Linked DNA regions of Homo sapiens. The protein of the gene in region 1 purifies or fractionates together with the protein of each later gene. This does not show direct contact. Each region holds a gene or a part of one and is shown on either strand. Other genes may lie near its edges.

Region 1 (3,834 bases):
AATGATGTGTATATTATCCTACATCCCAGCACCAATAGAGCTTCATGAGTTTAATTTGTAAAGGTTTATTTATATCTGTGTATTCCATATCTGACTCTATATTTTTAAGACTGGTTTACTTGTAGTTGAGGCTAATCTTTCATAAGGTGTTCGTCGATCACCTGTTAACATTATTCCTATGCCCTTAGCCCAGAAATTCTGATACAGTAGATATGAGATGGGGCCCATGAATCTGCCTTCTAATTAATTCATTGACACTTAGAGCTGGAGGATTCTAGTTTTAGGCCTTGGTTGTGATATATAAAGTAACCAGTGTCTTGAAAGAGTACAAGAGTGTATCTGGATTTTCACATTTATTCTCATTTGAATCACACTGATTTAGTTTATCTGCACATCGTAGAAATCGATTCTTCCATTGGGGAATGTTGATCTTAAAACATACTTCCAAATAGACCACTTCAGCTCATACATTCTCTTCTCACCTATCACTGACTACCTTTTATGAAAGCTGAAATTACTCTTAATAAGTGAAAATTCACATATATGAGAAATACTGTGTAAAATTATATTAAAAACCATTTATCCAAATATTTTAGATAAATTTAAGTAGTCAAAATTTAAAGCTATTAGAATTCTGAGCCTAATTTCCTAATTGAATTGAATGTAAATATTTTGACAACAAATTTTCTCTGTAAGACACAAATATTGTTGATAACATTTGAAGGCCTGTATAGCACCTTTATTTTATCTGGCTGCATTGTTTAGCCTCTTTAACAAAGATTATCACTCTCCTGACTTGTTTATTATTCAGTGTATTTCTTTAACAGTATATTTTAACAAAAATTATCATACGAGTTATATAAAGTATGGTTTCATTTGTTTGTTGTTAGTTGTCTTGTCTAGAAGGGATGATTTTATCTCAGTTTCTTCACTGAATTTTTCAAATATTCTATGAAAATGGAAGTTTGTCTTCCTCTTGCTAATTAGTTCGTTCACTGGTGAGGGCAGTGATAACATTCTGATTGGCTGTTATTGAAATGTTAGATATTTAAGTTATTTTGGGATAGAAAGTTCTATAAGAATGAGTTTTTTTAAATTTTAACTTTAATAACACTTTTTACTTGCGCTATCTCTTGGCAAAATTTTGTTTGTTTTCAGGTAAATTTTTGAAAGTGGAAAAAAAAATCAAAGCACTTTCTTATCTTTCCTAGATGTTTCATGGAACAGTCACAGAAGAGCTAACCAGTCATGAAGAATGGAGTCACTATAATGAAAACATAAGAGAAGGTCAAAAAGATTTTGTTTTTGTGAAGTTCAATGGCCTTCATTTAAAGTCTATGGAAAATTTGCAGTCTTGCATCTCTCTTAGAGTATGCATCTTCTCAAACAATTTTATTACAGATATTCATCCACTTCAAAGTTGTATAAAATTAATCAAACTTGATCTCCATGGAAATCAGGTAAGCAATAGCCATTTCAGATATTTGCATATAAACGAAATTTCAGTCTTATAATAAGTACTTATGTTACCTATCCACAGTATTTCTTCAACATGGTCTTTTGTCTAAAATATAAACAAAAATTTAACAATAAATTAAAAGCATGTAAGATGTATATAAATACGGACACTTTGATGTAAATGAAAATACATAAATAGTGTGTAATCTGGTATGTTTCACTTCTTAAATCTATAGCCTGGATTAAGAATGCCTCATGATTCCTTAATTTTCCTTAGGTAAGGAAAGTATTTTAGAAAAGTTTAAAGAGTCAACCTATTACAAAGAAATTTTCTTTGAACAAAAAAGTATGGTTATGCATTTTACTATGCGAATAATAATAAATTATCTCAGATACCCAGTGTATTATGGTTTTCAACTGGCCATCATTGGATAATTATAAATACTCTGTTTGCTTATTAATTAGAAACTTGCTATTTGGGGAATATTGAATTTTATATGTGTAATATTTTACCATTTTCTGTGCTATTCGAAAAAAGTAATTTTGGAATTTAAAAGATTTTTAATAATATTTCAGATAAAGAGTCTACCAAATACCAAATTTTGGAATGGATTGAAGAACCTAAAACTACTCTATCTTCATGACAATGGGTTTGCAAAGTTAAAGAATATATGTGTATTATCTGCCTGTCCAACCCTCATTGCCCTCACTATGTTTGATTGTCCAGTAAGCCTTAAAAAAGGATATAGACATGTTCTTGTTAACAGTATATGGCCTCTCAAAGCGCTGGATCATCATGTGATTTCTGATGAAGAAATAATTCAGAACTGGCATCTTCCTGAAAGATTCAAAGCATGTAACCATCGACTTTTCTTTAATTTCTGCCCAGCTTTGAGAAAGGTAATTGGCTTCTTTAGGGTTTCATTTTAATTAAATGTATAAAAGGGAAATTTTAGCTTCTGAGTTCTATATCTAAATTATATAAACTTTTTAATATTTTTGCATCATTTATATAAAATAATATAAACCAATGAATATATTTGTAATGTCTTTCTATCTGAAACTTGATAAAAGTTTGCATGCCAACTACATTAAACAAAGCCTGAAATGATCAAATTGTAGAGAAACAAATTTTTGTTTTTTAAATTGAAAGTAAATCTCTAATTTATTCAGAATTTGGTATATGAAAGACTCCATTGAGAAATACTTAATGTTTTTTAAGAGCGTTAAAGGATGACTTAGATTATTATTAGAAGATAAAATATTTAATTCTTACACAATTGATTTGGTTATTTGACAAGATAAAACCATCATTATCTATTGATTTATAAAATGTTAGAAGAAGTGATTGTGAAAAGTTGATACCAAGTTAACGGATACAGACTAATTAAGTGGATTTACAAAAACATAAGGAAACGTTCTTTATAACACATGAATAAATATTAGAACAAATCATTTAAGAGTTCAAAAGAGGGGGTTAAATTAGGTACAAGATATAGTAACAATAAGTTGCAGGAAATGTTTGTAATATGTTCTAAAGATATGTGAAGTCACATATATGTGTGTAGAAATTTTGAGGAAGAATAGAACATAATTTTGAACAGTGAGTATATCTAAAAGAATATATAAACATTGAACAGTGATTATGCGTGGAAAAACTGAAAATTACAAAGTTGGAAGAATTTTATTACTGCATATAATTTTTTTAATTAGGGACATATTAGTGATTTTGTAATAGTTTTAAAAATTTAGGATTTTGGTAATAATTTTGTACTAATAGTTAAAAATATAAAAAACAAGGTAGTATTTAAGTCTGATATCTTAACCTGGGCCCTAAATAAAGAATTTCACTTAGGTACTTCAGTTGCGTAGTATGGCATAATGAAAGGTGGCAACAGGCATGACCCTTTTAAGGATAATCGAAGTGACAGATTCATTTAAGGAAGTAATGGAAAGTTGGGCAGTGGGCATTGAGAAAGAACTTGGATGACCTACTAAAGAGCTTAGACTTGATGAATATAATGAAGATTAATTGAAATTATTTGAGTAGGAAAATTAGGGTAGGTCCCTCATAGTAAGTGCTCTATGAATAAATGGTATTGACAAGGTTTTTAAAAGGTGATCAACCCAACATTTTGCTAGCAGATTAATGGAGGATAGAAGCCAAATGAGGGCAAGGGGATCAATTACTGTAGGTTCAAAATGATGTGATTAGGATTGATATAGGCAGATACCAGTAATAAAGAAGAAAGAACACAGTGTAGAGGACAGACACATATTCAGTGAATGCCATTGTGGTAGGCGCTTTATACATTTTATTTCTTCATTCTTTCACCAAGTATATACTGAGTACCTAATATATGAAAAGGACTGTCT
Region 2 (3,834 bases), on another chromosome or scaffold:
ACCAATTGAGAGCCTGAGAATATGACAATACTAGAGGTACAACGCAGGATACATCGCCTGCTCTTGAGGCCTCTACCATCTGGTGAAGATAAGACATTTACTCATATTTATATTAAATCAAGTAAGTAAAAACTGTCAGAAGAGGGGTATAAAATAAATGCCACAGGAGAGTAAAGGAGGAACAATGGCTAGATGAGTTAATCACAAGAGAATGAGTCTTGAAAGAAAATGTTGAGAGCTAAAGATACAGAAAAGGCTGTATTTTAGGAGAAAGCTATGTAAGATCAATGACAGGTAGAAAAATACACTGAGTGTTGTTTCAGGAATTGTGGGTCTTCCAGTAGTACAGTTTGTGAGAAAATGGAAAAATAAGTTGAGAAAAGCAGACTGGGCTTAAACTGCAGAAAGCTTTGTTAAACTAAAGAGTATGAACTCCTAAGTAATTTTAGCCACTAAATTTTTTGTTTTGTTTGGATTTTTTTTTTTTTTTTGAGACAGACACTCACTGTGACACCCAGGTTAGAGTGCAATGGCACGATCTCAGCCCACTGCAACCTCCGCCTCTCAGGTTCAAGTGATTCTCCTGCCTCAGCCTCCCGAATAGCTGGCATAACAGGTGTGCACCACCACGACTGGTAAGATGGGATCTCAACATGTTGGTCAGGCTGGTCTTGAACTCTTGACCTCAAGTGATCCACTCGCTTGGCCTCCCAAAGTTCTGGGATTACAGGCATGAGCCACCATGCCCAGCCTTGTTTGGAATTTTTACTTTTCACCATGGTGTAAAATTCAAAAAATAAAAAAGGATATACAGAAGAAAATTTAAAAAGCACCTTCCTGGGCCTATCATCAGCCACCCAGTTCCTTTCCCTAGAGGTAAATAACATTATCAGATTCTTGGGTAGCAATCACTACAAGGTTTTACAAAAGGGAAGATCTATCTGATAGTGGGGTATAGGATGGCATCTAAAGAAAATTCTTTAGAAATCAATTGGCATCATCAGCATAAGAGTTGAGGAGAACATTAAGTAATGGATTGATAACACGGATGGGTGGGAAGACTATGTGAGATAGGTTCCTGGATGATGGTTTCATTTTTCTATGAAGATTAACAGTCTTCAGAAAACGTTTAAGGAAAGCAAGAACCATAAACATTGTTTCAAGTTACTATATTTTAAGTTAAAATTTTGCTTTATCAACAGGTAAATTATTTTTATCTTCAACTCCTTTAAGAAAAAGAATAAGACATTCGGCCAGGCGCGGTGGCTCACACCTGATTAATCCCAGCACTTTGGGAGGCTGAGGCGGTTGGATCACCTGAGGTCAGGAGTTCAAGACCAGGCTGGCTAACATGGTGAAACCCCCTCTCTACTAAAAATACAAAAATTAGTCAGGCGTGGTTGTGGATGTCTGTAATCCCAGCTACTTGGGAGGCTGAAGCAGGAAAATCCCTTGAACCTGGGAGGCAGAGGTTGCAGTGAGCCGATACCACACCATTGTACTCCAGCCTGGGCAACAAGAGTGAAACTCTGTCTCAAAAAAAAAAAAAAAAAAGAAAAAAGAAAAGAAAAAGAAAAAGATTAAGACATTATGTCAGTTGCCAATTATATAATTTTATGTATCCCTTCGTAAGAGGCACATGTTCTATATTATTGTGGTCAAGTATCCCAATTAGAGCAACAATTGAGGCTTCTTCTACTTTATAATTTTAGTGTCTCCTGGGAGAAGAGAATAAATGTGCAACTTCTATTAAAACATAGAAGTTTCTTGGTTTAGGCATTTCCCATTAAGATTAACCAAATCAAAGGAACAAGTAAACCACTGTGATAGCAGACACATCTGCTATTGCCAGACAATGGAAAAACATAGGCTGTGCTGTAGCCTTATACACATAGTGAATGACAGTGATGAGCAATCTATCTAACTGTAGGCCACGTAGCAGCTGTGCGTGTGCCTGTGCACCTGCAGATGGTCAGCTTGCACATTCAAGCACACACCTTTCTGTGATGCAGTCGAGGGAGTAAAAGATGTATTCAGTACAAACACCTTTGTTTCATGTAATTTCCATTATTTGCGAATTTATGTAATAACAAACTATAGCAATATCCAAAAACTTGCACATAGGTGTTCAATACGTATTTGCTTATGAACTGAAATTTCAAGCTTCATATACAGTAAAAACGCTTTGTGCCTATTTAAAAAACAAAGAATGTCTGCAATGTTCCACTGCAAAGAAAAGGAATCCTCTTCTGAACAGTTGTCCTGGATTCCATATTAAAAATGTTTATACTTTTAAAGAGTCAATTAATATTCTTATTGAAAGCAGCATGTTCATCTGAGATGCATTTTCTGCAAACGCTTCATGAATATATTCTGTTTTTAAACAAAGAAAATGCAAATGATGGTTCTTAATGAAAATAATTCTGCAACAGTTTAAAAATGACAGGTAATGACAGGTACAAACCTGGAATCGTATCCCCAATGCATAGCATAGATTTTAGCTAGGTGGCCCCTCAGTGTACGTCTTGTTCGCATTTGTATTCGACCCACAGAGTCCATATTTGATGTAATCTTTTGAAAGCAACAAAAATGTTATTCTTTACCTTAATCATAGTTCATGAGATAACTTGAACTAGAAACAGTGAGGAGTTAAAAAAGCAAACATAAAGTACATTTATAGTAACTGAAGGTAATTTAATGTATATAATTCCACAGAGCCGTTATGGGATCAATATGTTCCTGAAAATTATGATTAGTTTAAAATAATCCTATGTGCTGTTATAAATAATATACATAAATGTATAATAAGAATGCCTTCTGCAGACTATTAACTAAAAAGAATAGATATACCTCTATGCTTTAGTAAAAAACCAGCCACAAATAAAAATCTAGAGGCAAATGATCACAGTAAACATTTACAATTTTAACTGTAAGAAAGCCAATTTTATATTTGTAGAGCACATAAAATACTTCCTTAATAATAATGATCAATATTAATTAAACATGAAGCCTTCCCAAGATTTTTTAAAAATATTAGTCTTCTTGACCCCTCTTACTATCTCATTCCCAACCTAAGAGTTTTCATAAGGAAAAAAACACTTAATCAGGGTATACCAAAAAGAATCAGAAACTATTTAAAAAGAAGCATAAACTATATGAATCTATACATACATATATATATACATACATAAATATATATAATTTTTTTTTTTTCGAGACAGAGTCTCACTTTGTCTCCTGGGCTGGAATGCAGTAGGGATCTCGGCTCATTGCAATATCTGCCTCCCAGGTTCAAGCGATTATCCTGCCTCAGCCTACCAAGTAGCTGGGATTACAGGCAGGCACCACCATGACCAGCTAACTTTCATGTTTTTTTTTTTTTTCTAGTAGAGACAGGGTTTCACCATGTTGGCCAGGCTGGCCTCAAACTCTTGACCTCAAGTGATCCTCCCACCTCGGCCTCCCAAAGTACTGGGATTACAGACATGAGCCACCATGCTTGGCCTTGAAAATATATATACATATATATATATATATTTTTTTTTGAGACGGCGTCTCACTCTTCTCGCCCAGGCTGGAGTACAATGGTGCGATCTCAGCTCACTGCAACCTCTGCCTCCTGGGTTCAAGTAATTCTCCTGCCTCAACCTCCCGACTAGCTGGGATTATGCCCAGCTAATTTTTTTTATTTTTAGTAGAGATGAGGTTTTACCATGTTGGTATAGCTGGTATATTTTTATAGCATTTATTTTTCCATAGATGTCTATTTTAACAATATATTTTAAAAAGCACTCGCACTGTATAGCATTTGACAAATTACGAAGTGCTTTTACA

Evidence for each region.
Region 2: the proteins of LRRIQ3 (region 1) and GNB4 purify together in Homo sapiens (affinity purification with mass spectrometry, with the first as the bait; one large-scale study listed by BioGRID). This does not show direct contact.

What each region holds. Positions count from the first base shown.
Region 1 is NC_000001.11:74,181,062-74,184,895, reverse strand, and holds part of LRRIQ3 (leucine-rich repeat and IQ domain-containing protein 3), read left to right. Parts: intron 1-1,211; coding exon 1,212-1,460; intron 1,461-2,034; coding exon 2,035-2,358; intron 2,359-3,834.
Region 2 is NC_000003.12:179,416,935-179,420,768, forward strand, and holds part of GNB4 (guanine nucleotide-binding protein subunit beta-4), read right to left. Parts: intron 2,572-3,834; coding exon 2,465-2,571; intron 1-2,464. UniProt on the Homo sapiens protein: Guanine nucleotide-binding proteins (G proteins) are involved as a modulator or transducer in various transmembrane signaling systems.